Regions from separate parts of the Homo sapiens genome. Here region 1 is linked to region 2. Evidence: fine-mapped expression QTL. A gene starts in region 2. The other region holds a variant in brackets. All regions are shown on one strand. Distances are from middle to middle.

Region 1 (4,396 bases), 62 kb after region 2:
GGGCAGAGACTGCCTAAAACGACCATAGTAGGTTTACGATAGAAATGGTGACACGTCTTGTCTCTGCAGACGGTTTTGATTACAGCATCATCTTTCTGCCTTATTAAAGATCAGTATCTGAATTCTAAACTATTACCAAACTTCAGTTAGCATTATAATCTCAGGGACATCAAAGTTGTGCTAAGATGTTCTTGTTATAAAATGATACATTTGATTGGTAGATGCATCAGGAAATGAAACTAGGTAAGCCTTGGTTTTAACCCAAAAAAGTAAAAGGAGTTATTTTATCTTATGGCTTTTCCTCCATTTGGGCCTGTGGCAGTTGGAACAACAGAAACAACAAAAATAGCAGCAGCTAACACTTACTGCTTGTGTGTTAGACACTCTGCTGGGCATTTCGGTGTTCTTTCTTATTTACTCCCCACAACAACCCAGGGTACTGTTAGCCTCACTTAGGTGCTCTGCAAGGAGAAAAGAGGTTAAAAATGGTAAGTATTCCTTCCAAGTTTGTATACCAGTTCAGCCTTAAGTTTTGACCTTGTTAGTTGCATTAACCAAATCTGTGATCAAATCTGGTTTACAAACTGTTATACATGAATCTTAAACCTCCGTGCTGTCCTACCAGAATAATGTCGAGTAACCTGGAACACTCAGACTTTCTTCTTTTTAGGTGTCACATTTAATATGTCTAGAGAGAATTACTGTTTTTCCTATTTGAGATATTATATAATTAACAAAGTGACAACCTCTGGGTTGGTAGTAAATCTTGATAATATTGCTCTTCATACTCCATGTCACTGCTTTAAAGGTGACTCATGAGAAAAAATTATTCTTTGATATGATCTCTCTGATTTGGAGAACTTACTGTCTTAGAGCCTGGAAAAATGTATTTTTCTTCCTTGCTTGCCTCATGCTCTGAAAGCTTTTCCACCTCTTTGTCACTAGAGGGCAGTGTTGCACTGTGTGGAATAAATACCGTTCCTGAGGATTCGGCTTTAATTCACTGACTCCAAGGTCTGTGGACAAGTGGTCCCATCTCCTTTGCACCCCATCCCCGTCTCCCCTACCTCATCATTATTCTGGAAGGTGCTCAGATAAGATTGCTAGAATTTTACTAGATGGCTACCATTCTCAAGTGCTGTCTGTTAGGCATGGTGCCCAAGATTCTTCATCTCCCTTGCTGTGTTAACCCTTCCCTCCCCTTCTCTGTGAAGAAATCTGATTGTCCTGTTACAGAGAATAGGCACCTTAATATATTAAATAATATTCCTGAGATTACCCAGCTAGAAAGTGGCAGAGATGGGATTCAAACCCAGGTCGGCCTGACTCCAGTACCTGTGCTTTGACCCATACCCTGTAGAGCTTTTCTTGGTATTATCTAAAACAGATCATTGCAAGAGAGCATTTAGCCTGACAAGAAACAGTCTTGTACTTGGAGATCAACTGTGAGAGGACAGCCATGTAATCGGCTTCATTCTTTCAATGGTGTCAAGGTCACCTCATGGAAAATGAGGTTATTTGTTTTGTGAGCCTGACTGCATTTCCATATGTTCAATTTGTCCTTTCAAAGGATCCAGGTGAAACTGGGATGCTCTGAGCCAGCACTGTCCAAGAAAAATACAGTTTGGGCTACAATTGAGAGCCTTGCCTATACTGTAAAATTTTCTAGTAGCTACATGAAGAAATAAAAAAACAGATGAAATTATTTTTAATTATATATTTTAAGCCTAATATACCCAAAATATTATTTCAGCATGTATTCAGTATAAAATATTGAAATATTTTACATTCCTCCATACTAGTCTTTTTGATCTGGTGGATATTTTATCCACATAGCACGTCTCAATTTGGACTAGCTATCTATTGGATGCTGGCTATTCACACATTCCTGGTGACTACCACTATGGACATTGCAGCTCTAGACTTATGTCTTTCACTTAATGTTAGCTTTCCTTTATACCCCTGGAGGAGGGGAGGGATAAGGGATGTCTGTAGGGTTGCCTGCAGGTCTGTTTATGGCATCTCTCACCAGGCTGATATATTGGGGAAATACACAGCTGAGTTAATTCACTGAATGTACAAGTCAGTTGGGGGAGAGAAC[G/A]TCAGTCTGGTTTTGGAACTTTGTGCTTTTCTTCACCATATTGCTGCCTCTTTGAATCTGAAGTTAGAATATTTTATTGCCCCTTGCATCCTTTCCCCCAAATTAATCCAAGCTGTCAGCATGTTCAGGTTCTGCCAGTATCTGAATCAGAGGACTTTCAGGTTACCTGAAGCCTTGAAAAGCTAGGCATTCCAAGCGGGCATTTTTGTGGGATTTTTAGAATCACAGCAACCTTGATTGTGAAAGCTAATTCTTTCTTTAAAACAAAACAACTAAAAAGGAGACATTAGGAAAACCGTTTGACTGATAGCTGGGGTCCCATAACACTTCAGCTTCCTATCTTCCTGTTAGGCATCTGATTTCAGGGGCTCAATGGAAAGGGAGTCAAGATGCAAAAGGCTTCCTGCTGATGTGTATTCCCAGCACTAATGGACTTTGGCACAGTGCCCTTTCAAAATGCCTGGGCACAGAGGGTGAGAGACTGTTGATGTTCTTCCAGACCTCATCTTGAATTATTAAACATTACTCTAATGCGGCTTTTACATTTCCAGAGGACTTTTTTTCCTGTGAGGAATAAATCATAGCCTTGCATTGTCCCCATTTTACAAATGAGAAGACCAAGACTTGAAAAGTTGTTGGACTTCACTGATGCCATGGGTCAAAGTTCAGCAGACTCTGCATTACATTTTCCTCCTTCCAAGCCCTCTGGTTTTAGCCAAGTACCCCTCAGCTAAAACATTTTGCCTAAAGTTTGCATGAGATTCTTGGCACCAGCTCTTAAAGCAAATATTTATGTTGTTCTCTGACATAAGCCATTGCAGGTTATGGTTTCATTGAAATTAAAGGTTTTTGGCCCAACTGCAAACTTATCATTTGTGAAATGAATGGTTGAGTTCTCATCGTGGGCCCAGAGAACCTATGGGGACTCTTTATGGAAATACCCATTTAATACGTATTAAATATCTACTGTGCACCCAACATTGCTAGGTTCTTGTAGACCAAGTTCTTGGAGGGAAGGAACTGTAGTTTGTTCCTCTTTACATTCCCAGTGTCCAGCACAGCACATAGACCATGGTAGGTGCCCAAAAAGTTTGTTTTGAACAAACAAGAAGCAGAGAGAGAGTAGTACCTGCTTTCCAGGGGCTTATGATCACTCAAGATCCAAAGGAATGCCTTACAAATGTGGTCCTTCTAGACTGGAAGCACATTAGGACCTTGAGTATTTTTAAGCTCACTTCTACTATGGAATTTGGCCACTGAAATAGACTCTGGTTCACAGCCACTTCTTGTACAAAATGGCAGGGTGTTACCAAACACCTAAAATTGACTGGGTCTCTGTTTTAACTCTTTGGTGTGTTAAAATAATTCTCATGTTCACAAGAGGAGGGGGAGGTAAAATGGTTATGAATAATGTTAATGTTGAGACAGATATTGTGTGTAGCCTGGTAAGTAACTAAACAGAAAATTAAAAAATGAATGTGACATGTACTGACAAACTAGCTATTTGCAGTTGAAACCTGAAGCACAGACAGTTGTGCTTGGAGTTAGGGGTTCTTGAAACTAGAGAAAGGAGTTGACTGGATTCCAAAAGAAACTAAGAAATGTGAATTATTAATGGTGCTGTCAGAGTTGTAGTTGACATCCATAGAAACCAACTTTAATGTCAATGTTTTCAGCTTTAACTTCAATGTTTTAAGGCTTGTGTAGCGTATGGAAAATATTTACTCTGGCAATCGCCTGTTTTACTGTTAAATAATCTACATATTGTTAAGTGATCTGTTCATTTGGATATTTCCTCTAGGTCTTTTTGGAGGAGGACTTTAGTTCATCAGAGTTTTTGCTGATGCAGCAAAGCCATGGGTGGGATCCTTGTTTGGGGTGCGTTTGTAGACCTTCTCCCTTGGCCACCAACTTTACCTTGCCTGGTCCAGCCACGTGGCTGGTAGTGTAAGGCACGGTGTTTGTATCTAGTTGGAGTACAGGGAAGTGTGTATAAAAACAATTAGAAGACCATAGTTCATTCTGTGATTCTTACCGATACGGAGTGCAGAGAAAGGACTAGAACTACCAGGGCACTTGGTCTTGAAGTACACTCTGAAATGACCCTTGAACATTGGCTTAATTGGACACAGAGAAGAGAAAGAAGAATAGAGCAGGTGAGGAGAATAAATTCCATGAGGGAAAAATGTAGGGATGGGCCTGGTGTTGGAGGAGAAGATAAGCACAGCATATTAATACTGTCAAGGAGGAGATGTGATGAGGCTGCATAAAGGAGGAACTTATCACAACCTTCTT
Region 2 (4,341 bases):
AGGTCTGTGGCCTGTTAAGAACCAAGCCGCGCTGCAGGAAGTGAACATTGAGCAAGAGAGCAGCGGTTCCACTCGATTCTCATAGGGGCAGAAGCCCTACTGTGAACTGCGCATGCGATGGATCTAAGTTGCAGGTTGTGTGCTCCTTATAAGACTCTAATGCCTACTGATCTAAGGTGCAACAGTTTCATCCCGAAAACATCCTCCCCTCATCCCCCCACCTGTCCGTGGAAAATATCATCTTCCATGGAACCAGTCCCTGGTGCCAAAAGGTTGGGGTCTTACTATGTTGCCCAGGCTGGAGTGCAGTTACTATTCACAAAGCTGGATGATTGCGCACCTCCGATGAAAGGGGCTCAAAACCAAGGCATTTCTGCCTAATAACCCCTTGGAAGTGCCTTAAAAGAGGGTCAATTATGTGTGCTTTTATATACATCGTCTGTCCAACTGCTTCTGCCTGGACACGCATATTAAAATAATTACCTGGCAGAATATTCTTTGCCTGAGCTAAACCCGGAGATCTTTTAAACGCTTGCAGACTCACAGAGCCTGGCACTGCGGACTTTGCTGCTGCTACCTCGTGAAAAGGAGGGGTACGAGCTCTAGGAGGCTGTCGGCCACGTCCAAACTACCAAGCTAACATCACTAGGAGCCGAACACGGCTTTTGGTCATGTACTGACGACTCTCATCTCTAAGATTCACGAACGGCGACCGATTGTCTGTTCGATTTCCCACAGGCGTCTTCCTTTCGTGCACCAAGAGGGAAAAGCAACGGCGGCTGCAGCAGGGCGCTGGGGTTACGAGTCCAGCCCTGGGGCCGTGCGCCCTCCCTCCGCGCCCGCCGGGCCACGCTGACGCTCCCTCCCGGCTCCCTGCCTTTCATCCCGACGCGGGCGCAGGGCAACTCGCTTTTCCTATTCCTTGCGCGCCGGTCGCACTTTCTAACATCTCAGAAATATGGCCCTTGTCACAGACTTTCATGATCGTGCACTTTAGAGAAAAGCCAGAATGAATGAACTTGTCAGTTTAATGTGAAGTCCTCAAGGGAAAGGACCATGTCTTTGTCATCCCAGAGACCACAGTACCCAACGGTCGGCTTGGCTCTCAGTGAGTGTTTCCCTAAGCATCAAAACAGGAATGACCAAAGCAACGGACAAATTAATGCATGTGGAAACAAGAAATGAATGCATGAGAGAGTGAAGAAAAGAAGGGGCCAGGCGCAGCGGCTTACACCTGTAATCCTAGCACTTTGGGAGGCGGAGGCAGGAGAATCGCTTGGGTCCAGGAGTTCAAGACTGCAGTCAGCAGTGATCGCAGGTCAGGCGACAGAGTGAGACCCGGTCTCACCACCACCCCCCCGAAAAAGGCAGGAACCCCAGAGGGCCGGGAGTGCCAGGTGCGGCCGCCCGGGAGCGGTGTGGAGGGTGCGTGGGCCACTTTGCCGCAGGGCCCACCGCCCGGGTCCCTCTGTAAGGCGCTTCTCCGGCAGACACCCCGAGCCAAAGCGGGCCGTACCGCAGCGTTGGGCACTTGGGTGGAGAGTGCAAGGGCGGCGGGCCTGCGCCCAGACAGGTGTAGCCGTCCCACGCTAGGTGTCCTCCTGCCGCTCCCTGGCCGCGCCATGCCTCGAGGCATGGAGGTGCTGGACCTGCCGGTGTGCAACCGCGCCTCGGGCCTGTCCTGGGGGCCGCACCACAGGTCAGTGCCCCACGGCGCCCTTGGCGTGCCCCACGCCTCCCTGGGGGCCCCACCGCCGCCCCCTTTTGGGACTGCTTACTTCCTCGGCTCTTCTCGCGCGCGCCTCGGTTCCATCCCCTACGGCCCCCACCCCGCCTCCGCGTCGCCGACCCCCTTCTCCGGGAGCGCGGGGAGGCTGGTCCGCTGAAGCGTGGAATAAGTCCCCTAGGACCCCAACTGGGGAAGCTCCGGTCCCCGGTAGGAGGCGGCGGGGCGGGGCGGGGCGGGGCAGCCCCTTGGGGGCGGGGCGGGAGCGCCTGGCCACGCGCCGCATCCTGCAGGGTGCACACAGAGCCGCCTTTCAGCCGCCCGAGAACTGCCCGCCGCACTCCACGACTGCGGCGCCTGCTCTCGGGCCGGGGTCTGCGCGCACCACGCGGCCGGCAGAAAGGGTAAGAGAAGGGAACCCCGCTTTGCAGGGCTCCAACTTCGGCGGACGCGTTACGGCGAGGGCGAAATGAGTCGGCCGTGAACGGTGTTTCCTGTTCCGAATCCCGAGAGCCCTGGAAAGTTTTGAAGGAGGAGGCATGGCCCGGCAGCCTTATCGTTTTCCCCAGGCAAGGATTCCGGAGAGAGGATCAGGTGTTTTCAGGTTAACCGTCAGGTGAGGAGTCTGGGCTTCATCTTTCAGGATGCTGGACTGGAGAAATCTTCCTAAAGTCGATGGCTTTACTTTCGTAGACTAGAGCTTGCTTGCTGCCTTGGGAATGCTTATATTAACTGCTTGCAGTTAGTTAAATAAGGCTAGGCTGTGCCTTCCAGAACAAACAGGCCTTTCCCTCAGGTGGGAGGGTTGTAGTGTGGCTAACCCCAGTTCCTCGGCCTTTATGAAAAGGCGCACAGTTCAGCCGGTTGGCGCTGCCAGCGGGCCCCTCCTCCGTGGTCAAACCTCCAGCCACCCCAGCACAGTTGAGCCAAAGTTGTGAGTACAAACAGACCTTGGCTCCCCCGTTTCCTGCTCTCCAAACATATATATATATATATATATATATATATATATATATATGAAATATATACGTATGTGTAAGTGTGTGTGTCTCTGGTTGAACGGTACTTGTGGGAAACAAAATTGTGTGTCATTGTAAACTGAGAATGGAAGAAAAGGTTAGTAAGAGAAAGGTGGGAGAGGTTTCTTATGGGTGTCAGGATGTAGACTCTGATATTTTATGTAGAGGGAACCAACTACGTAGTTCTCCCCAGAAATGGGATGTGGGTTTCACTCTCAGGAGCTGCTCATCACCTTTGTGATGTGCTAACCAAAATCGCACAACTTTTGGGAAATTTGATAGCTTTCCCCTATTGAGTCAGAAGTTTCTTGAGACTTTAGCCTGTCTTCCTCTTCATACCTTAAGAGGAGTCAAACTCCCGTTGCCGTGAACTTTCCACAGGCACACCCTTCTCCTTTAGAAAACCGTTCATAGGTCAGTTTCTGTGGCCGGAACTCTAAAAACGACACATTTTCCATACAGAGGCCATCATAATACCAATTTTATTTAACCTCCTGTAATAAAAAATGAGTGAATCCTAATAAAGTGTTTGAGGTAGCCACATTCTTTTCTGTGAAGGAGGAACATATCAAAAGTGTTTTTTTTTAAAAAAATAGAGTAATAGATATAAAATATTTTAATGAAGCAAGTGAGAAGAACTGAGAGACATAGTTTGAGCAAAGGGGCACGAAATACAGAACTGAAAGTCAAGAATGATCATATTCACAAGCTGATCTCTTTGGCTATGTCTCTGTCAGTGAAGTGAAACCTAGAACAAGACAATTTTAAAACCGGCGGAAAAAGAGATGGCTTCTTGTGACTATAGCTTTCAAAGTAAAAGTAGTGGCCAAAGAAAACTCTTCTGGCTGTAAAAGTAAAAGTGGACTTTCCTGAAGCTGGGCTGTTTTCTTTAAGGCCTAGGGTCTAAGTTCCGTGTGTCAGTTCTGAAGAATTAAATCACTCTTTAGTGAGCTCTTGTGTCACATGTTAAGGGGTTCATAGAAAAAAGTGCAGGCATACCTTGTTTTATTGTTCTTTGCTTTATTGCACTTTGTAGATACTGCATTTAATTCAATTTTATTTTATTTTACAAATTGAAGGTTTGTGGCAACCCTGTGTCCAGCAAGTCTATTGGTGCCATTTTTCCAACAGCATGTGCTCACTTTGTGTCTCTATGTCACATTGTGGCAATTCTCTCAATATTTCAAACTTTTTCATCATTATTATTATATCTGTTATGGTGATCTGTGACCACTGATCTTTGATGTGACTACTGTAATTGTTTTGGGGTGCCATGAACTGTGCCCATATAAGACAGGGAACTCAATTAATAAATGTTGTATGTGTTCTGACTACTCCACCGACCAGCCATTCTTCTATCTCTTTTCCTCTCCCCAACCCTCTCTATTCCCTGAGACACCACAATATTGAAATTAGCCCAACTAATAACCCTACAGTGGTCTCTAAGTGTTTGAGTGCAAGGGACAATCACAGGTCTCTTACTTTAAAGGTAGGAGTGATTAAGCTTAGTGAGGAAGGTATGTTGAAAGCTGAGACAGACCAAAAGCTAGGCATTTTGTGCCATTTAGCCAAGTTTTGAATGCATATGAGATGTTC

Alleles and levels. Alleles are on the strand shown, and positions count from the first base shown. SD is a standard deviation of normalised expression in the study named.
With allele G in place of A in region 1, the expression in spleen of the gene that starts at base 2,025 in region 2 is higher (small effect, 0.29 SD a copy in GTEx).

Evidence for each region. PIP is the estimated chance that this variant, and not a neighbour inherited with it, causes the effect.
Region 1: its variant is fine-mapped to the expression of MCOLN2 in spleen (GTEx, PIP 0.99).

The regions. Positions count from the first base shown.
Region 1 is chr1:84,932,958-84,937,353 of GRCh38, reverse strand. All of the region lies in intron 11 of MCOLN2 (mucolipin TRP cation channel 2), which reads left to right. Among named protein-coding and RNA genes, the nearest start is that of LPAR3, 42 kb to the right of the region's middle. The variant G/A (reference allele first, on the strand shown) is at 2,102.
Region 2 is chr1:84,994,797-84,999,137 of GRCh38, reverse strand. It overlaps MCOLN2 (mucolipin TRP cation channel 2), which reads left to right and starts at 2,025. Exons shown (of 14, transcript NM_153259.4): 1 at 2,025-2,342. The coding sequence starts at 2,266. RefSeq lists enhancers at 291-1,162, 3,483-3,542 and silencers at 1,733-2,022, 2,633-2,682.